3 linked regions of the Homo sapiens genome follow. The protein of the gene in region 2 interacts with the protein of the main gene of each other region in a biochemical or structural test. Each region holds a gene or a part of one and is shown on either strand. Other genes may lie near its edges. The genes, in order: NFIX, PRDM1 and TLE2.

Evidence for each region.
Region 1: the proteins of PRDM1 (region 2) and NFIX form a complex in vitro, tested with the Homo sapiens proteins (one study listed by BioGRID).
Region 3: the proteins of PRDM1 (region 2) and TLE2 form a complex in vitro, tested with the Homo sapiens proteins (one study listed by BioGRID).

Annotation. Positions count from the first base shown.
Region 1 is NC_000019.10:12,998,473-13,005,577, reverse strand, and holds part of NFIX (nuclear factor 1 X-type), read right to left. Parts: intron 1-7,105.
Region 2 is NC_000006.12:106,096,286-106,103,390, reverse strand, and holds part of PRDM1 (PR domain zinc finger protein 1), read right to left. Parts: intron 5,303-7,105; exon of another isoform or gene 5,178-5,302; intron 4,451-5,177; exon of another isoform or gene 4,306-4,450; coding exon of another isoform or gene 4,297-4,305; intron 4,092-4,296; coding exon 3,839-4,091; intron 1-3,838. UniProt on the Homo sapiens protein: Transcription factor that mediates a transcriptional program in various innate and adaptive immune tissue-resident lymphocyte T cell types such as tissue-resident memory T (Trm), natural killer (trNK) and natural killer T (NKT) cells and negatively regulates gene expression of proteins that promote the egress of tissue-resident T-cell populations from non-lymphoid organs.
Region 3 is NC_000019.10:3,026,205-3,034,162, reverse strand, and holds the start of TLE2 (transducin-like enhancer protein 2), read left to right. Parts: upstream 1-4,882; 5' UTR 4,883-5,258; coding exon 5,259-5,282; intron 5,283-5,359; coding exon 5,360-5,457; intron 5,458-5,780; coding exon 5,781-5,844; intron 5,845-6,289; coding exon 6,290-6,334; intron 6,335-7,958.

The sequences.
Region 1 (7,105 bases), on a different chromosome or scaffold from region 2:
GCAGGTTTTCACATCAAGCACAGTTTTAAAGCGTGTGCTGTGAACCAACTCCTCAGATCCTTACCACAGCCCTGCTTCCTAGATACAGAAATTGAGACCCAGAGAGGTTAAGCAACTTGCCTGAAGTTACACAGCTAGTGAGTGGCAGAGCCAGGAGTCAAACCCAGGAAGCTGGCTCTGCAGGCCCCACTCTCCTAATAACAGTACCTGCTGAACACAGGATTCAAGAAGACAAGCTGGGAAGGCACTTAGCAAGGGTGCAACGCAGCAAGCACACAGTTCACATTAGCTGTTGCTACGATTTTTAGGACAAACATTTATTTTGCTATTATCCTATCTTCTTCTACCATTCTGCTGACCGCTGTCTCTTCTTTCTCTGGGGTCAGAACTGGGGAGTCAAAGGCCAAAGGATTAGTGAGACAGCCCCACGGAGGACAGGAGTCTCAGAACTTAGCTTTGTTGGCCAGGCACAGTGGCTCACGCCTGTAATCCCAGCACTTTGGGAGGCCGAGGCGGGCGGATCACTTGAGGCCAGGAGTTTGAGACCAGTCTGGCCAACATGGAGAAACCCTGTCTCTACTAAAAATACAAAAATTAGCCAGGTGTGATAGTGCACATCTGTAATCCCAGCTACTCGGGAGGCTGAGGCATGAGAATTGCTTGAGCCTGGGAGGCCAAGGTTGCAGTGAGCTGAGATTGCACCACTACACTCTAGCCTGGGCAACAGAGTGAGACTGTTTAAAAAAAAAAAAAAAAAGAACCTAGCTTTGTCCCCATCCCTTCTCTCGGTGGCTGCCAGGAGCAAGGAGGTGAGGGTGGAGCCCTCGACCACGGAGTCTAGAAGACTGCGAGTGTCCTGGGCAGGGATGGGCATGTGGTTTTTCCAGGCTTTGTCTCACCCCAGGCTTCTACAAACCAGGGCAGGGATTTGGGGCTCCCAATTCTATCCTGAGAAGCTGGGGTGGCTGTAGCTGCTGCGCAAAGACAGCTGGTTGTGGCTGACAAGCAGAGGGGAGGTGCCACCAGGGCAGGTCTCAGCTCTCAGGCACCATTTCCAACCACTGCCAGGTGTGGCCCAGGTGCGAATATGTGTGGGGGTGTGGCTCTCGTCCCTGTGTGCTGGGGTAACACTGGACTGTGTACATGGCACGCCGACTGTGCCTGGGTTTGGCAGGGGAAATGGGGTATATATGCGACAATGCCTGGGTCCTAGTGAGGGAGAGTGTGTGTGTGTGACACTGTCAGCTGGCGTCTTGTTTGGGTGTGACTGTGTATGTGGGTGCATGTGTAATGAGTGTCAAGGGTTAGCTGTGCCTGTGTGTGTTACTGTGTATCTGGGGATGCATGGCAGGGTTTCCAACCTTGGCACTACTGACATTTGGGGCTGGATCATTCTTTGTGGTCGGCGAGGGTTGAGGGGTTCCATTGTAGGGGACTGAGCAGCATCCTGGGTCTCCACTCACTAAATAGCACCCCCTCCACAAGTGTGACAACCAAAAATGATTCCAGGTTGGGCATGGTGGCTCATGGCTCCCAGCACCTTGGGAGGCCGAGGCGGGAGGATCACCTGAGCCCAGGAATTCAAAACCAGCCTGGGCAACAAAGCCAGACTTCATCTTTACTAAAAATTTAAAAATTAGCTGGGTATGGTGGTGCTCGGCTGTAGTCCCAGCTACTTGGGAGGGTGAAGCGGGAGAACTGCTTGAGCCCAGGAATTCAAGACCAGCCTGGGCAACATAACCAGACTCTGTCTCTACAAAAAAATTTAAAAATTAGCCAGGTGTGGTGGCATGCACCTGTATTCCCTGCTACTCAGGAGGCTGAGATGGGTAGATCGTTTGAGCTTGGGAGGTCAGGGCTGCAGTGAGCCGAGATCGCACCACTGTGCTCCAGCCTGGGCTACAGATGACAGTCTGTCTCTAAAAAAAAAAAATGTTTCCAGACATTTCCCAATGGGTGAAATCACTCCTGGTGGGTGACACTGGGTTAGGGAGTGTGTGGGGTGTTTTGTGTGTCTGAGAGCGTGTTATTGCATGCATGTGCATGTACCTGTGTGCTTGGTGGCATGTGCGGGTGTATCGGTGCTCATGTGTGTGTTTTGGGCACTGACATTATGACTGAGTGTGTGTGCTGTGTGTTTCTAGCTGTGCCTGTGGGGCTGCATTTGACGGTGGCAGAGCCTGTGTCTGTGCTGTGTGCTTCATGGCATGTGATCGTGTGACTGCGCGTGTCCCGTGTGTCTGCACCCACATGCACGTCCCTGAGTGTGTAATGCCGCATCGATGTGTTCGGGTGTGGCCGGGTGCCTCAAGGTGTCTGTGAGTGAGGGCAAGATTCTTTGTATGGGGACGCCTGTGTCTGTTTGATTGAGGGAGGTGCAGCATGCCAGTGTGTGTCAGCGTGATTCTTTGTGCCCGCATGTGCCAGTGAGAGTGTGTGACTTTGTGTGAGATGGACCCGGAATAAACCCCCCCCCAACTCCCCAAGATGATTCGACCGAAGCCGATATTTGGACGGAACCACCTGGATAATTTGGAACCCATCCCTAGCTCCTGCCTGCCTTGGACTAAAAGGCCCAGGGGGGTCGGGTGCACCTCCATGCTGTCCTTTCCTCCAGCTTGGCTCACACAGATTCAGGTGGGGACAGACAGATCCCCGCTCTTGCCCGATCTGTGCCAGGAAGGCTGGCACTGAGCTTCAGCTGAGGGGGCAGGGTCCTTGGCGATGGTGGTGGGCACTGCCCCCTGCCCACTGCTGGCCACCACCCCCGGCTCCCCTCAGGGTGGGGCCCAGTGGGGGGAGAGCTCCCCAGTGCAACCCCGGCTTCCGATTGGCTGCAGAGCGCCGCAGTGCCCGCTACCCGCCTCCCCTCCCTGGCTGGCGCAGCCACATCGGTAGTGGTGGCAAACGCAACTTGGAGTTCTGGGCACAGCTGCGCCTCACAGAGGCCTGCCAGCCCCACCAGAAGCCAGACACCCCAGCTCCGTGCCCCCGACCCCTCCCTGCCCGCCCGCCCCGCCGGGCAGCTCAGTCACCCTGCCCATTGCCTCCCTCTGGCTGCCAGGCCCTGTCCACCCTGTTCCCTCACCCGCCAGGCCTGTGCCCCCCTGGCCAAGCCCACTCAGGGGGCCCAGGCCCCTGCACGAGGCCACTCCCGCCCTCAGAGGGGCTCCTCGGGAGGGGGGAGGTGGTGAGGAAGGGGGGGTTGGGGAGCTAGCCCTTCTTCCTTTAGTGAACGCGCCCAGAGCTGGAGCCAAAAATCGAGGAGGAGAGATATTCAGACGGAGCCAAGACGCGTTTGGCAGGAGGAGAGAGAGAGGGAGAGAGGGAGCGGGAGGAGGGGAGGAGGGGAGGAGAGAGGGAGGAAAGAGAGAGAGAGAAAGGGGGAAAGAAGGGGGGACCTCAGTTTCCAAATCCGCGCCCTCAGAGCCTCGGAGGGATGGCGGGTGGCCCAGGGGTGTGGGGCCCAGGGCCTGCCTGGCTGTGGGGGCAGCGGGGATAGTGGGCTCAGGCCCACGGAGACAGCCGGACACCCAGCTGGCCAGGCTAGAACGGACACAGGCAGAAGCCAAGATCAATGTGCGCCGGGCAGACAGAGGGAGGCCTGTGGGCGGCCCGAACACACGCCCGCACCTCGCTGCCGCACAACGGGCTTCTGTCCACGCCAGGCCAGGGGCACGGGCGGGGCCCCCAGCAAGGCCACTGCGGCCGCTCAACCTCATGGGAAGGGACTGAGCAGCCAGCCCGCTCCCAGCCGCTTGCCCGGCCGCCATAGCAGGCATCTCACATGGTGCTCGGAGGCCAAGGGAATGCCCAGGAGAGGCGCCCGTGGGGTGAGACCCACAGTGATTGTCACGGGGACAAGCTCAGGAGGCACAGTGATATGAGGGTGATGACACTGGAGACACGTGCGTTGACACGTATGTGGACACAAGTTGACACGGACAGGCCAACACGTGTGTGAGACACACGGATACACTCTTTGCCGTGACGCACAGACACCCAGAAAAACACTGCTGTAGATGTGACGCATGTCGCTGGGACACTGTCACCCCAGATACAAAGCGCAGATACAAAGATGGTGACCGGTACACCAATACCCGTTGACGTGCGCAGCGCCACCGTGACACAGAGACTACATCCGGCACACTGACACGCATGGTGGCACGCTCCCCGACCCCCACTACCAAATACACAAGAGACAGGGCGTGCGATGATCCGTGGAGTCACATGCAGGTAGCACCCAGTGATGGACGCTGGGAGACATGGAGAGGCATGGAGAGGGACCCGGGCAGACACACGCTGCCACACAGACATCCTCGGGAAAATGGTGGCTCTGAGGCCTGACATGCCGATTAACATGCACACCGATCTGGGAGAACCCAGATAGTGGCTCACAGCTGTCCTCCTGGCCCACTTGCCCCCACATCCAGGGCTTTGGGGGCAAGAAAATTAAGACACCCCCCTCCTTTTCCCCACCCCAGCTGGGAGGGAGGGGACAGAAGGCCCATTCTCAGCACCGTGTTGGAGAAAGTGCCCAGCCTCCCCTACCTCTCTGGTCCAGCAAGTCCCCAGATTCCAGCTTCATGGGGGTGGGGGAGACAATATCTCAGCAGATTTAAAAGGCCAGGCTCCCTGTGGGTTAGATGGGGAGGACGGCAGTCAACACACCAACCACGGGGGCATTTTGCCCACAGCCACGGCGCCACGGCCAAACACCCAGCATTGCTCCCACCCGCAATGTGCCCTGATCCAGCCAAGTGCCCACCATAGGGTCCTGCACATATGTCCTGTCTCCATGGCGGGTCCAGGTGACAACGCCCAGGTGCAGACACAGAAAGTTCTGGAGCTTGGGGACGTCCCTGAAGTCATCATCTAGATGCACCGGGTCTCTTTGTCCCACATACATTTGGATGAATGCGTGCACACATACTCTTATACCAGGACTCAGGGCCCCCAACCAGGGTATCTGGTCCTCATGGAACAGTGGAGGCCTCGTCTCTCCCCTCCTGCCCCCCACTCTCCCCCACCATCTCTCCCCTATCTTGAAGTTGTGCCACCCTCTGCTTGGCCTACAGGCCCCCATCCAAAGGTAAAAGAGCTGGGCCATGTGCAAACTCTCATCCTTCCAAACTCTCCTCTTGCCTCCTCCTCCTCCAGGCAGTCCACTTGGATATCTATGGTTGGGAGGTGCTCGATCCTGTCTTCTACCCCTCAGAGGCATCCCTCTCTCAGCTGGGAGGGTCTGGGAGGTTGACAACCAACAATTGGCAACAATTACCATTTATGGAGCACACACTATGTGCCAGGCACCACATTGAACCTAAGTACAGCCCAAGAGATAGACACTGGTTTTTGCCCATTTTACAGGCCAGGAAAATCCTGTGCTTCAGGTCGCAAGATTAGAACATGTAGAGCTGGAGCTCGAACCCATTTCTGTCTGACGGCAAAGCCTAGCCCTTGACTCCGCTCCCGCAGCCTCCGTCTGGGAGCTCTTGAGGCTACACAAGACATTCCAGGCCCTAGAGAGACTGGAGCACCCTGTTCCCGGCAGAGCCCTCGGCTCTGAGCTCGGCCCAGCATCAAAACATCTCACGGAGCCCCAGCTCATCTCATGAGCTACCCCATCCCGGCCCACACCTGGGCACACCTCCCACCCCAGCAGTGGGCATGAATCAGGCAGGGCCAGAGCCGGAGAGAAAATGCCAAGTGCCATGAAAACAGGGCACCAGGCCGGAGCAGGGACAGAGAGCTATAGCTTCGCAGGGACAGAGGGGTGGCCAGAGTGACCCAGAGAGAAAGCTGGGGGAAGGGGGCATCAGGGAAGCCCCAGCCATCCCCCTCCCATGGAAGGAGTGTTGGGGGAGCTATGCAGATACAGAAGTACAGGAACGTTCGGCTGCTTGTATGGCCAGGAAAATGGGCGTAGGTCGCTGCGTGTCTGAGAGCGGGTGTATCCGTGTGTGCGGCCATGTATGTCTTTGTGTGTGTCAGCAAATGTCGGCATGTTTGCCTTTTTATCCCTGTGGCAAGGAGGGGGAAGCACGCATTGGTGCATATTTGTGTGTGTGTGTGTGTGTGTGTGTGTGTTTGAAAAGGTATTTGTGGCCGGGTGCAGTGGCTCATGCCTGTAATCCCAGCACTTTGGGAGGCCGAGGCAGGTGGATCACGAGGTCAGAAGTTCAAGACCAGCCGGGCCAAGATGGTGAAACCCCATCTTCACTAAAAAATACAGAAATTACCCGGGCGTGGTGGCGGGCACCTGTAATCCCAGCTACTCGGGAAGCTGAGGCAGAGAATTGCTTGAACCCGGGAGGCAGAGGTTACAGTGAGCCGAGATCACGCCACTGCACTCCAACCTGGGCGACAGAGCAAGGCTCCGTCTCAAAAAAAAAAAAAATAGAAAAAGAAAAGTTATTTGTGTACACACCTGAGCGAGCCAACTGCATTATGTCTCTGTGTAAAGATGTGTATCCATCCATCCGCCTGTCCGTCCTTGGGTCCATGTGAGCATGTGTGGGGGTGAACACACATTTGTGTCTACCTGTATCCAAGCATGTGCTCAGGGCTCCATGAGTCTGGGAGGTGTCGTGGTCTCCATGTGCCTTCGTCGCTATCTGTATCATCTCGAGGGGTTTGTGAGTGTTTATGTGTGCGCTGGGGGTGGTTGTGAACACAAGTCCACAGTTTCCTGTGTCCATACGTGCGTCAAAGAGGTACTGCTGTGTCGCTAAGCCTACACCAATATACGTGTCCCATTTCAAGAGGTGCGTGTGTGTTAATGGGTGTGTGTGACAGTGTGAACACAAGTCGTCGGTTTCCTGTGTCCGTAGGTCTGTAGGCTCGTCGATGGTCGTGGGTCTGGACATCGGTGTGAACAGGACACTTACATCCCCATCTTGGCGGTGATGGTGGTGTACGTGAGTTCACATCCTGGTTGTGTCTCTGTTTCTTGGCAGGGTTGGGATGGGGATGGGGGTCCATCCATCCACCCCCCACCCCTCTCTCCGCCTGAGACTCAGGACTGTGGCTACAATGGACTCCAGCAGCTCCAGGAACCGCCCCACCCGGCCGCCCTGAATTTCGATGCTTTTTCTAGAAGGAG
Region 2 (7,105 bases):
AATGTCTCTGCTTGAATTTAGTTGAGAAAGAACTCCACACTTGCTATCTGATAGGTCTAGAAATGAACTCTGTGAAACTCCAGAACTGAACCCTTTAAATGTATTCTCTAGGCTGACTGGCTTGAGGGATTCGATTCCAATTTGAGAGCCCCTTAGAGAATGTTATCTCCTGCCAGCGGTTATCAGTTCCTCCTGGGCGAGCCTGAAGCCCCAGAATAAACACAGAGAAGAACGCTATCAGGGAAGATGCTGACGGGGGGGCCGTGATGGAAAGCTTGCTGAGGGAGAGGGATTTCTGAAGCCACTAAAACAAAATAAATATCTCCTTATCAGGCCAATATCGGTCTTTCAGTGAGGCCCAGCAGGCAGGAAGTTCTAATTGTCACTTTTGTTTTTTAAAGCTAAAATGGTAAAGGATGAGAAAGACAACTAAGCTTGAAAACTGATAGGCAAGGCATCTCACAGCCACAGGAAGGAATTTTATGAAGGTGAAAAAGAATTATTTGGAAACATCTATATAGGGTCAAATTCATAATGATTTTTAAAAACGATGCCGCTCGAATAAAATGGAAATACAAAAAACTTTACCCTCATGACTTTGAGCCATTTTTACTCAAATTATGTATCTAAGTCTCATATTTTTTCCAGTGGCTTCCACACTCCCTTGGTTCTATAATTCAACAAATAATAATAGCATAAATGTGCAATAAGCATAAAGTTTCAGTCCATCTGTGGCACTGCCCCTCACATTTAGCCAGGGATTCTTCTTAAGTACCTTAATATAATTTGAATGTTGAACTGATATGAAACTTATGATTGGGCCAACAAAAAAGCCAGAATTTTAAACTTTCTATGCAAAACACTTAGCACAGTGCCTAGTATATAGTAAACTCACAATAAATGTTTGCTATCTCTAATGCCTTCAGAAAAATAGATTTGCATCTTATTCTAAAAGAACATCCAGAGTGACATGTTAGCCTCCCTAAGATGCTCTACAGGTGGAAATTAGGAAGTCCATATACAGTAAAGGTGCATTTTAAAAAATCATCCTTCAGCAGCTGAGTAATCAGTGGAGCTGGTGTCATTTCTGACTCTCCCACTCAGCAACAGCTTGAGTTAACATGAAAAAGAAAATCAAGATCTGTTTTTGTTCTGAAATCTTAAATGGCTGTAGGCGGACGGAGTCATTTCAAGAGTGAACTGCTTCTGAAGACTCCGAATGGCTTAATTATGCCGACTCACATTTTCGATCTATAATAAGAACCCCAAGACTATAAGAAAGAACCTAGAAGTTCTGCAGTAGGCAAAACAAAGTCTCTTTTCAACTGAAACTGAGAAAGCAGATTAACATTTAGAAGTCTATAATTTGGTCAACTGTTTTCTAGATGGGTTAGTTAGATAGATAGAAAAAAAATACCTCCCCCCCTGCCAAATTTGGGAGGGGTAGGGGTTTCAAACTTATTAGTTCTTTTATTCCTTTTCCTTTGTTTTTAGAAAAATGCCATTTTGTGATTTCTGGCTACTTACTTTTCTTTCCTTTGGTTTGTTTCAAATCCCTTCTTCTCCAAACTCTACCGCCTGAACCATCACTGCCATTTAAGCCCTCATGGAGATTCTTGCACCACCTCTATTGTGCTTTAAGCATGGAAACCCAACACAGTTCATTTGGAGACACAATCTACCTATTAGGCCTGATGAAATAGTGGAAATTTTCCTGATCACAGTCTCAATCATCAGCTGCCACGCCTAAGACAACCGGTTTCACAACTGGCAGCAGGAATCTTGTTTTAATGTGACTGGTTATTGTTAACTCTCATTCTTTACTATGAATATTGGACAATGAAATGTGCTTGAAAATGTTAAACCACCATTTAGAAAAAATTCTGCCAAAATAAAAGGGGACATACTGCATAAATAAAAAGGGATAAATAAAAGGTGTCATTTCACAGTATATATGACAGTTGCTTCTGAACACAAAGTAGAAGCACTTGAACCTTAAAATACTGTGCAAAACCTTTCTTTGAGGAATAAAAACGCCAGGCCTTTAAACCCTTCCCTTGATTGGCACAGGGTGCGGGAAGCATGCAAAAAAGTTTCTTGGTGGTTGGTGCAAAGTCACTGGGGTAGGTCACCTCAAATGAACTGTTTAAAGAAAAGCAAAAATCAAAAGACTTTCCTCTGAATCCATGAATGATTAAACTCAAGGAATGTAAGGAGACCCTTAAGTGGAAGTGGCTCACTATGTTAAGAAAGCCAGGAGGGAGCTGTGCGCTTCTTCTGAGACGCACAGCTGGAATACGAGTTCCACAAAAATGCCACTGTGCCTGTGCATTTGTCGTTTGTTACTAGGTCCTCAGCACTGGGCATGGCATACACAGATGCCACAACAGCCGAATGGTTCCTGGGAGGCTCAGCCCTAGGGATATGACAGAGTCTCCAGAGTCTCGGGGAGCGCTGAAGAGACATGAGGGAAAAGAACTGCCACCTTTTTGGTCAGGACCTAATTAGACCCATTAAGCTGGAACTGGGGAACTGAGAGCCAGTTCTTTTCCTGAAGCTCAAGGGTAACCTGTTGTGTAAGGACCCCAAACACACGACCTCCCCTACGGGGGAGGTCCTGATGCTTTTATAGCCCCAGATTTTCAGAAAAACTGCAAACACAATCTTGCAATCTTAAGGGAGATCAAGTAAAATGAAGTGTGGAATGAATACCAAATAACCATACAGTTGGATTATATATGACTAGGGTAAGTACTTGGCTTGTTCATTGGTCCTAAAATCAAAGTCAAAATTCCAATTTATGTTAACATTGATATTTATTCCAAATGTCTCAAAGGTGAAAATGAGAACTAAAACAAGTTAGCCTTCTGGTAAAGCAAATGGATATACTTATCAATAACTGGTAAACCTGGGTAAAGGGTAAGTGGAAATTCTTTGTCCTTTTCTTCAAATGTTTTCTTAAGTTTGAAATGATATCAAAACCAAAAGTTACAAAAACTTCAGCATTTAGTCTTAACTTCTAAACCAAAAGGAATAATTTTTAAAACTGCTAATAAGATTTAGTGGTCTAACCAAGAACACACAACCATAGTTACAGCAGAGGTTAGAATCTTATGGCAATTCTTAAATTGCTCAAAGAGATCACTTGAGAATGACCAAAATGATGCAGCCCTCTGCAGAGAGAGGTCATGACAGCAATTTTAATCAAATAAAAGAAGTAAAAGCACATAAACCTAAGGAATTGAGAATTTGTTAAGATAAAGTGATAGGTGGCTACTATAATACTGATCAAGAGATCAGATAGTTTTTTTACTGTAAGGAAGGAAGCTAAGATGTAAAATCTTTACGGTTATTCACTTAGAATAATATTGAAAAATTATGACAAAGTTTTTCTAGCAATGATCTTACAATGTTCCACATCAGATCCTAACTGTACACTCAAATGTACATCTATAAATATTTTGATGCAGTCTAAGCCCTGCCAAAGTACCACAGATGAGGGCTATACCTTGCATACGCAGCATGTCTGGACCAATCCCTGTAATTCTCCCAACTGCTTTTGGATAAATTAGAATTGGACATATATTTCTTCCTGTAACATCCTGAATTCAAAACTCAAGGTAGCTCCTCATATATATATATACTTTTAAATGATCAAGTTTCCTAATAGTTAATAGGGACTCAAAAAATGTTTTTCCTCTTCCTAGTCCCTAGCTTAAGCCACCTACTTCATCCAACACATGACAAAGCCGTATAATTAAACAACATGTTATTAGTTCAAAGGGGCAGAACCGACATTACTGGCATTTTTTATTTTTTTGTTCTGTAATCCACTTACTGAGATTCATCATTGTCAGCTCTCCGGGATAAGGGTAGTGAAGCCTTTCTGCAAAGTCCCGACAATACCACACAAGAAGTTCCTGGTTGGCAGGGATGGGCTTAATGGTGTAGAAGTAGATGTTCATCCCGTTCTGACACGCAGCCAGGTTTTGCTCCCGGGGAGAGTGTGCTGGATTCACATAGCGCATCCAGTTGCTTTTCTCTTCATTAAAGCCGTCAATGAAGTGGTGAAGCTCCCCTCTGGAATAGATCTGTCCAAAAGAGAAGACAGGCATGTAAAAGGAAGTCAGACCCAAAGCTCCCCAGCACCTCTCAGAATAAACACAGCCGGTACCGTGTGTGATTTCTGATCCCCTACTGCCTAGTTAGAAAAAGAATCCAATCAGTTTAGCCAGAATAGTCTTGAATCAGCAGAAATCAGGGCGGAAACAGGTAAGGCACACTTTTGTCAGTTACCTTTTCCATTTCAGTTTTATCGTCTTTTCATGTTCGGGAAAATAACAGAAAAATGAAACACAAATGTTCATTTAAGGAGCTGCCTCAAACCGATTAACCCACCACAGAGTACTACTTTTGCTACTGCAGTGAATGGCAAATGGGCGATGCTACTGACTTCAGTTCCGATTATGCTGACTTTTAGTGCTTTGAGTCACTGGGTAGAAGACCAAGCCGGCTGACGACGTCAAACTGAGTCTTAGCTTTTTCTATGGCCTCTGTACTCGCCGTTTCCTACACCCCCGCCCAAGGCTTCAACTATGCAAACATCCTCCACCCCCAACCCTCCAAGTCCTAAAGTAACACTTGTTCATATGAATACTTGGAACCTTGCCTTTTTGTGGAAACACTGGGTGGGGCAAAGGTGAACTTCACCTGCCATAACAAAGCGAACACTCGGGCAGCAGCCCGAATTTGACAGTCTATTACTGAGAAGTCACTTTTCCTCTTGATAAACATGTCCAGACTTGCACTTTCCTTTCAATGCAAAGGAGGGAAGGGAACCCCTTATCTGGGAGGAGGCTGGCTAAAACACCACACACAGAGCCATAGGCGTGTGTTTTTGGAAAAAGAACAGGAAGAAAGTATGTTGTTCCTTAAAGGCAACGCAGAATGAAGAATTTGAAGTTTGTCCTAGAGTAATACTACTTCTGGATAACAGATGCACTCAGGCTACTTGGCAAAGAGGCAGAGGAAGAAGAAAAATTAAAACGTACACTCTTACTGAAACTATAAACACACTCCTTATCCTTCCACACAAAGTTTTCTCTCTTCCCCTCTTTTTAGGAGGTACCACCTTTACTTTAGACTTTAAGAAATTTCCTTATACAATCAGTCAATACCTAGTGTGATCTGCGACTTGCAGTCTCCAAGCAGCAGTAAGGCACTGTTCGTAGCAGGAATTTTGTGCTCACCGGACAGCAGGTTATTGCTTTTCCTTACTCACGTACCGACTATGCTAGTCTACAGATAGTTTCTGTATTTCGCTCAAACGTTATCAGAAATAAAAAGGAACTCTGTCCCTTTAACACAGGCGGTAAACACCAGAATCACTTTCTTTTAAGAGTAACTTCCTGTAAATTGTGAAGGGGGAAATACATGTGGCTTCATCAAAGCAGCTTGTGAGAGCTTTTGCGGTGTGTTTTGTTAAGAGAAAATGGAACAAGGCTGGGTGAATTCTGCTATCAAGAGGGGTTTTCAAGTTTGTTTACTCTGATGTGCAAACTTCCAGGAACATGGGGTTCCATCGCTCTTGTACTCTTCGCTGGTGCGGAAACTGCTTTCTAAAGCTACGGGTATGTTGATTCCAGTTAGCCTTCCTCGGACTGCAATTTACTGTATCCTCATTTAAAAACAGCAATGTCGGTGCCATGAAGTCACTCACACAGAATAAAATAACGCATATGTAAAATGAACACCGTTTCCTACCACCTTCCTGCACTTCCATATATTATCTAGAAGATTAAAATGCGCTGATTCATAGTACAGTTACAAGAAATGTCACTGGTTTCTCAACTTGAACATCCCTTCTTTGGCAGTGTAATTTGCATGAAACTTTTTCTTTCCTCACAACAGATGTTCATATTCCTGCCAGCAAAAACGAGATGTTCTACAATATCCTTTGCATGTGAAAGACTGATTCAAATAAATCCTCCCAAGGAAAGCCTTTCAGTTACTTACAGTGAATCTTTAAATGAAACAGGGAACTGGACAGTGAGGGGGAGATTCTTAGGTACTTCTTGCCTTTTCTCAAAATAATCACACATTAATGAGACTTATGCTGGATTGTCTTAATTCAGACCTTTAACTCCAAGAACTATGCACCTTTGTGGCTCACTTCTGAGAAGACGTTATTGACAATAAAGGCAAAAATGCACTCATGGTTCCACCATTGTAAGTCAGGTGATTAATATATTTTAAGGAGGAATAATTATTAAATAAAAATTGTGAGCACATGATTCTTAGTGAATCTGTAACTACCCTCTTTTGCTTGGGAAATAGTAAGATAAATTTCTAAAAATGAAAAACTTCCTGGATTAAAAATATTGTTTCTTAGGAATAGCTTCTTGTCCGAACGATATAATCGTTCTAGGCAAAAATACCAGCTAAAGCAAGCATAACACAATTTTTGTTATCATGCAGCTGTTTCTTTTTAAAGAATTCAAATAATGTACATTTCATGTAAGTATGCACAAAAAAACGCTTACTAAATTCTTTATCTTCTGAGGAAACTAAATATCCCTGAGACATCTATGGGAAGAAGGAAAGCAATCTGACTTTTTTCTGTTCACTGCTAATCCAGTGTTTTATTCAAGGATTCCATCTAATTGGTTCACCTCTGGGGGCCTTTCTAACCCTAATATAGCAAAGGAAATTGTACTGGCTAGATCTTTTGGTTGGATGCTATAGGAAAGCTTATCATCTTGCATATGACTGTTAAGCATTTTCCTTATGCTATGAGATAATTAACCTATTGTCAAATGGAATCATTTTACCATGCACATGTATTTAAATAGGACTAGTTCTGTGGTCCTCCATTCCCCTCAACCCATCTTCCAGCTATCCTTCCTTAATGGCATTTACTTATAAGGTAATTCATTTGTCATTCCTGGCTGGGCGCGGTGGCTCTTGCCTGTAATTCCAGCACTTTGGGAGGCCAAGGTGGGCGGATCACGAGGTCCAGAGATCGAGACCATCATGGCCAACATAGTGGAACCCCGTCTCTACTAAAAATACAAAAATTAACTGGGCATGGTGGCGCGCACCTTAG
Region 3 (7,958 bases), on a different chromosome or scaffold from region 2:
TGATGCTCTGGTTTAGAGTATCTGGGGGATGTGTGTGGGAACCCTGATAGGAGCAGGGGGTAAGAGTCTGAGATCTGGGGGACCTCTAGGGGAGATGCCCAGTTGGTGGCTGGACCCACAGGGCTGGGTCTCAGAGTAGGAACCGGAGGTGGTGCCAGAGCTTGCAGCCATCCTCACGAGGCGGTCACTGAAGCCTGGAGGGAGAGGCGGTGTCTCAGAGCCCTGGAAGCCAGAGGTGTGAGTCAAGTTGACATTCAAGTGACCGGGCTAAGGAAGGACAGAGACCTACGTTTGTTATTTTACTTTTTGTAGAGATGGGGGGTGGGGGTTGGGTCTCGCTATGTTGCCCAGGCTGGTCTCAAACTCCTGGCCTCTTTGGCCTCCCAAAGTGCTGGGATTACAAGTTTGAGCCACCACACCTGTGCTTAGAGAGGGAAGAGGGCCGCCCGGACAGGAGAGCCCCGCAGAGGGAGGTGAGGCTGCTCTGAGCAAGCATTGTAATGGAGGTCAAGAAGGAGCCATTGGGTTTCCAGAGCCAGGGGCTTAGGCAGAAGAAGGAAGATCTGGAGGGGCGCGGTGGCTCACACCTGTAATCCTAGCACTTGGGAGGCTGAAGCAGGCAGATCGCCTGCCAGGAGATCAAGACCAGCCTGGCCAACATGGTGAAACCATGTCTCTACTAAAAATACAAAAATTAGCCGGGTGCGGTGGCTCACGCCTGTAATCCCAGCACTTTGGGAGGCTGAGGCGGGCGGATCACGAGGTCAGGAGATTGAGACCATCCTGACTAACATGGTGAAACCCTGTCTTTACTAAAAATACAAAAAATTAGCTGGGCGTGGTGGTGGGCGCCTGTAGTCCCAGCTACTTGGGAGGCTGAGGCAGGAGAATGGTGTGAACCTGGGAGGCAGAGCTTGCAGTGAGCTGAGATGGCACCACTGCACTCCAGCCTGGGCGACAGAGTGAGACTCCATTAAAAAAAAAAATTAGCCAGGCTTGGTGTATGTCTGTAATCCCAGCTGCTCGAGAAGCTGAGGCAGGAGAATCACTTGAACCTGGGAGGCGGAGGTTGCAGTGAGCCGAGATCTGTAATCCCAGCTACTTGAGAGGCTGAGGCAAGAGAATCGCTTGAAACTGGGAGGCGGAGGTTGCAGTGAGCCGAGATCGTGCCACTGCACTCCAGCCTGGACGACAGAGCATGACTCCGTCAAAAAAAAAAAACAACCAACAAGAAGGAAGATGTGGGGTGGACAGTTGCAGACAATGAGGACAGAGGCTACCATGTATGCTCAAGGTCCAGGCAGGGGAGATGTTGGCCTCCCAGGAGCAGTGAAACACCTGCCGGAAAGGGTTTGGAATCAGCACTTCACAGACCCCCAAGAACCTGGAATCACGGACTCTTGACAGCGTAGAATGATGGCGCTCCCTGTTTGTGAGAATTTCCAAGCAGGGAGTGTGGCCGGCGGTTTCTGGCTTTAGGCTGGTTATTGAGCACTTACTGTGTGCCAGGCCCCGCAGAGACCTAGACAGGCTCAGTCCCTCCACAGCCTTCTTCGTGGTGAGGGAGACAAACAAGGACGCGAACAACCTCCGAGTAAACATACTCACATCCAAAACACACTGTGGGCTGGGCACGGTGGCTCAAGCCTGTAATCGCAGCACTTTGGGAGGCCAAGGAGGGTGGATCATCTGAGGTCAGGAGTTTGCGACCAGCCTGGCCAACATAGCGAAAGCCGGTCTCTACTAAAAACATAAAAATTAGCCAGGCGTGGTGGTGGGCACCTGTAATCCCAGCTATTCGGGAGGCTGAGGCAGGAGAATCACCTGAGCCCAGAAGGCAGAGGTTGCAGCAGTGAGCCGAGATCACGCCACTGCACTCCAGCGACAGAATGAGACTCCGTCTCAAAACAAACAAAAACAAAAAAACCGAAGGCCAGGCATGGTAGCTCACGCCTGTAATCCCAGCACTTTGAGAGGCCGAGGCAGGTGGATCACCTGAGGTCAGGAATTCAAGACCAGCCCGGCCAACATGGTGAATCCGTCTCTACTAATAATACAAAAAAAATTAGCTGGGCATGGCGGCGGGAGCCTGTAATACCAGCTACTCCAGAGGCCGAGGCAGGAGAATCGCTTGAACCCGGGAGGCATAGGTTGCAGCAGTGAGCCGAGATCGCGCCACTGCACTCCAGCCTGGGCAGCAGAGCAAGACTCCGTCTCAAAAAACAAAAACAAAAACAAACAAAAAGCCACACACTATGGTAGGAGCTGGGAAGAGAGGGAGAATAGGATGGAGAGTGTGAAAATAACGGGGTGGGCAGAAGCTGTTGAAATGGGTGGCTAGGAGGGGCCGTTCTGAGGAGGTAGCTTTTGAGCTGAGACTTGAATGATAAGAAGCAAGGGAAAAGCATTCCAGGTACAGGGAACAGAAAGTGCAATGGCCCTGAGGCTGGACTGTGCCTGGTGTGAGGCCAGTGTGACTTGGGCAGAGTGAGTGAGGGCGAAAATGACCGGAGTTGAGATCATGAAGCTGGCTGGCCGGGTGCAGTGGCTCATGCCTGTAATCTCAGTGCTTTGGGAGGCCGAGGTGGGAGGATCGATTGAGCCCAGGAATGCAAGACCAGCCTGGGCAACACAGTGAGACCTTGTCTCTATAAACAATAAACAAAACATAAAGAGATGGTGAAGGGGAAAAGGGGAAGAGTTTTGTGAAGAGCCTTGTGGGAAGAGAGATGAGTTTGGATTTATTTTGAGGGCAATAGGGAGCTAGTGAGTACTACACACACACACACACACACACACACACACACACACACACACACAATTGTATCTTTATCCCAGGCTGTGTCTCTTTTCCTCCCTTCCCAGAGCTGCCCAACCTCATCGTTCAGGTCTCATCTCCAAGGCTACCCTCCCCCAAGGGTCCTCTCCCAGACACCCCACATAAGCAGGTTTGCTTTTGTTCATCTCTATCACTGCCCTCTAAACTCTTCCTCTGTCTGTACAAATAGTCCCATAATTACCAAGCTGTGAACCTGCCTAGCCTGTCACTCACATCCCACAAACTCAGAGAGGGCAGGGATCTGTCTCCCTTATCCACCCTTACAATCCCTGTGCCTGGAAGGATGCCTGACACGTCATAGGTGCTCTGTAAATATCTGTGGGCTGGAAAACGATGGCTTTAAATTTGATAAGGGCTTTTTTTTTTTTTTTTTGAGACAAGGTCCTGCTCTGTCACCCAGGCTGGAGTGCAGTGATGTGATCTCAACTCAGTGCAGCCTTGACCTTCTGGGGCTCAGGTATCTCCCGCCTCAGCCCCCCAAGTAGCCGGGACCACAGGTGTGCATCACCATGCCTGGCTAATTATTTTTGTATTTTTTGTAGAGATACAAAAAACACAAAAATGTTTTTTTGTATTGTCGCGGTGTTGTCCACACTGGTCTTGAACTCCTGGGCTCAAGCGATCCTCCCTCCTCAGCTTCCCAAAGTGCTGGAGCTACAGGCATGACCCACCACCCCTGGCCCATTGATAAGGGCTCTTGTGCCCTTTTGTAAGGGTACAAAATGGGTTTTTGTAACCCTAACCCTTAGGTACCATTAGGTACTCGATCACCTAAGGACACAAGTCCAAGTGTCATCAAGGGGCATGGATTTTTCTCTGTTTTGTTCCCAGCTGTGCCCCAGTGTCTACAGCAGTGTGTGGTCCACAGTATGCATTTAGTACACGTTTGTTGATTGACTTCACAAACCTCTCCTGAGGTTTCTCCAAAGAGAATAAGAACTTCCCACTCCCCGGGTGGGCCTGAAGGATGCTGGCTGGATGTCTGTGGTCTCTGGTCGGGGCTGGAGCCTTTGCCGTGGGAGAGACTTGAGTCTGATGGCAGAGCTGTGGTTCTTCCAGTTCTGAGTGGGACACGGCTCCTGCCTTCAAGAAACCCAGTCTGAGAGGGGAGACAGCCCAGTCCACTGGTGATGGCAGTAGGAACACAATTCCCATCTGTGGAAGTTTGCTCTGTGTAGGGAGAGGCTGACAGCGTTCATGCACTATCTCATTTAAGTGCAGTGCCCAGTGCGGTGGCTCCCGCCCGTAATCCCAGCACTTTGGAAGGCCGAAGAGAGAGGCTTGAGTCCAGGAGTTCAAGACCAGCCTGGGCAACATAGTGAGACGCCCCCCTACTCCATCTCTGCAAAAAATTAAAAAATTAGCTGGGCGTGGTGGTGCACACCTGTAGTCCCAGCTACTGGAGAAGCTGAGGGGGAAGGATCGCTTGAGCCCAGGAGTTCGAGGCTGCAGTGAGCCATGATTGCCCCACTGTACTCCAGCCTGGGCAACACAGGGAGACCCTATCTCTGCAAAAAATTAAACCCTAAAGATAGCGCACCACCCCTGACCTTTTGCAGAGACTACTGAGGCCCCCAGAGGGCGAGGGCCCGGCATGATCTGGGAAGCAGTGTTTGCTGTGAGATTCCCTTTCTGGCAGGGTTCCCTGCCAGCGCTTGGCAAGGCTGCGTCCTGCTGACCCTTCAATCTCAACCCAATGTCACTTGCTCAGAAAAGCCATTTCCGACTCCAGACTGGTCCCCGCTCCCCGCAAGCCCCCCCCCCCGCTCCCACGGTGGGTAACACGGTGTGAATTTCTTCACTGGTTTTTCTTCTCCCGCCCCTCCGGGAGGGGGTGGGGACCCTGTTTTAAGGCACTGGGCGCCTCCCCACCCGGCCTCAGTTTCCCCAACGGCCCAGGGACTGAAGGAAGGGGGCGGGTGCCCGGGGGCCGGGGGGGGCGCGGGCGCGGGGAGGGGCGGTGCGCGGGGGTGGGCGCGGGGCGGGCCGCGGGCGCGTGGGGGCGGCGGCGCCACCTTAAGGCGGCTCAGCCCGCGGCTCCCGGCCGAGCCCCGCCGGAGGGAGGCGGCTCCGCGCGGGGCCCGCCGCCCGCGCCGCCGCCACCGAAACCCGGCCGCGGCGCGCCCGACCTTCTGCGCCGGCTGCCGCGGCCGCCCTCGCCGCGCTCCCGCCCCGGCCGCTGCCCCTGCCCGCCCCGCTCGCCCCGCGCACCCCAACCCGGGGAGGGGCTCCCACGACCCCGGGCGCGCGCGCTTGGGGGCGCGCCAGGGACTCCAGGGTCCCTTGCCCCGCGCCGCTTCTCCCTCCTCCCTCTTTCTTCGGGCAGCCTCCCCACCACCCCACTTCAGCCTCCCCCACTCTTGCCGCCTCCATATCATCAAGCTCTGGTGGCGCCTGGGGGGCTTTTCGGATCGGCAGGATGTACCCCCAGGGAAGGCACCCGGTGAGTGCGGACTGCGGGGAGGGGGCCCCCAGTGTCCGGGAACTCAGACCCTGACGTTTCCCCCACACCCCCCCCAGACCCCGCTCCAGTCCGGCCAGCCCTTCAAGTTCTCGATCTTGGAGATCTGCGACCGCATCAAAGAAGAATTCCAGTTTCTTCAGGCTCAATACCACAGGTGAGGGGGGCCGCCCCAGGGGCCGCGGGAGTTCACCTGGGCGCCGGGGCGGGGCGAGGCCTCCGGGGTATAGGGCGGGGAGGAGGGGCTCCCGGTTGGAGGGGGGGCGCGACAAAGGCCTCCAGGTGGAAGCGCAGGTGCAGAGGGGTCTGGGGACAGTCAGAGCTGGGGCATTTGGAGCCCAGGAAGGGGCGGGGAGGGACTGGGACAGGAGGTGGGGGGAGGTCTGTAAGGAAGTCGGGAGGGGGAGATCCAGCCTCTCACTTTGGAAGCCGGCCCACATGGGGCGGGTGGGAGCCCCTTGCCCTCTCTCTTCTTCTCAGCCTCAAGCTAGAATGTGAGAAGCTGGCCAGCGAGAAGACGGAAATGCAGCGACATTATGTCATGGTGAGGGCACTTATGATGCCAGGGTGAGGGGAGAGGCGGGCAGGGCTTTGAGTCACGGTGGACTCTGGGGTAGGTCCCTGCCCCACTCCGAACCTCGTCTTCCCCGTCTGTACATTGGGCAGGTTGGGATTTCAGGCTCTCTAGGAGGGTCCTCCCAGCTCTGGGAATGGGGAGACAGGGAGGACCCCTCGCCTGATGGGAGTCTCTGTCGGGCCAGGGCCTCTGGACACTTCCTACCTGCCCTGCCTCTCTGGGGAGAGTAGAGGGGGCCCTTCCAGGCAGAGCCCCCGCTTCCTCCTCTGGGACCCCGTGGAGCTGGGGGGGGCTCTGCTTCCTGCTGTGATTCCCCTGAACCTGGGGACTCTTGGAAGACCCTGGCATCACCTATCTGGAGGAGGGCACCCATCTCCACCCTAGACGTTCTTACTTGGTTTTTCCTTTGCAGTATTATGAGATGTCGTACGGGCTCAACATTGAAATGCATAAGCAGGTAACTGGGTTGGGGTTACGCGTGTTCAGGAGGGAGGGTGGGGGTCTGGAAGCCCTGAGAAGGACCCAGAGTGGGCAGCCGGGGCCAGAGCAGACCTAGGGAACACGGGTCTCATCCTGAAATCTCCGCAGAGGTCACAGAGGGCCCATCTGGGACCAGGAAGACAGATTTCAGCCTCGTGGAAGGAAAATGAGTCCCACCTTCTGAAGACAGTATCTAGCAGTTGGAGCGTCCAGCAGAGATGCAGGCAGTGGGCAGGGGCCACCAGGCATCCCCATCAAGGAGGGCACATAGCAGAGGCAGGGCAGCCAGGCCAGGGAGGCTGTGGAAGTGACTTCTGTCCTAGGAGGGAGCTGGATGGCCACTCTTAGAGGTCCCTTTCAACCCAGAAAGTCTGAAGTTTTGAGATGGACCCCAGGTTCTGTTGCTGCTTTGAAGCTTCTGAGATTGGTCTCAGTGTGATTGGCTGGAAGGTTCCAAGATTGTTCTCCAGGCCCTGAATTTGATGCCATGGTTCAGACTGTGACCCCACTACTCCAAAATAGACCTCAAAACTCTGTGGCTGTCTTCAGGGCTTTGAGATTGACTCCAGTGTCGTAAGGCTCTGAGCCTCTTCTGGAGCTTCTCAGTGTGATCCAAGGTTCTGAGACAGACTTCAGGGTTCTGAAATAGACCTCAGGGTTCTGAGATTGACCTCAAGGTTCAGAGATAGACCTCAGGGTTCTGAGATTGACCTCAGTGTTCTGAGATAGACCTCACGGTTCTGAGATTGACCTCAGTTTTCTGAGATAGACCTCAAGGTTCTGAGATAGACCTCAGGGCTCTGAGATTGACCTCAGGGTTCTGAGATAGACCTCAAATTTCTGAAATTGACCTCAGGGTTCTGAGATAGACCTCAAGGTCCTGAGATAGACCTCAGGGTTCAGAGATAGACCTCAAGGGTCAGAGATAGACCTCAGAGTTCTGAGATAGACCTCAAGGTTCTGAGATAGACCTCAGGGTTCAGAGATAGACCTCAAGGGTCAGAGATAAACCTCAGGGTTCTGAGATTGTCCTATCTGTGTACTGAGATGTGTTAAAAGGTTCTGAGGTGTTCCTGAACTTGTGATCTCAAGGTTCAGAGATAGACCTCAGGGTTCTGAGATAGACATCAGGGTTCAGAGATAGACCTCAGGGTTCTGAGATAGACAGGGTTCAGAGATAGACCTCAGGGTTCTGAGATTGACCTCAGGGTTCAGAGATAGACCTCAGGGTTCTGCGATTATCATATCTATGTGCTGAGATGTGTTAAAAGGTTCTGAGGCTATTCCCGAACTTCTGATCTCAAGGTTCTGAGATAGACCTAAAGATTTTTTTTTTTTTTTTTTTTTTTTAAATTTTGAGACAAAGTTTCACTCTTGTTGCCCAGGCTGGAGTGCAATGACCTGATCTTGGCTCACTGCAACCTCTGCCTCCTGAGTGCAAGCGCCTCTCCTGCCTCAGCCTCCCGAGGAGCTGGGATTACAGGCGCCTGCTACCATGCCTGGCTAATATTTTGTATTTTTAGTAGAGACGGGGTTTCTCCATGTTGGCCAGGCTGGTCTTGAACTCCTGACCTCAGGTGATCCACCTGCCTCGGCCTCCC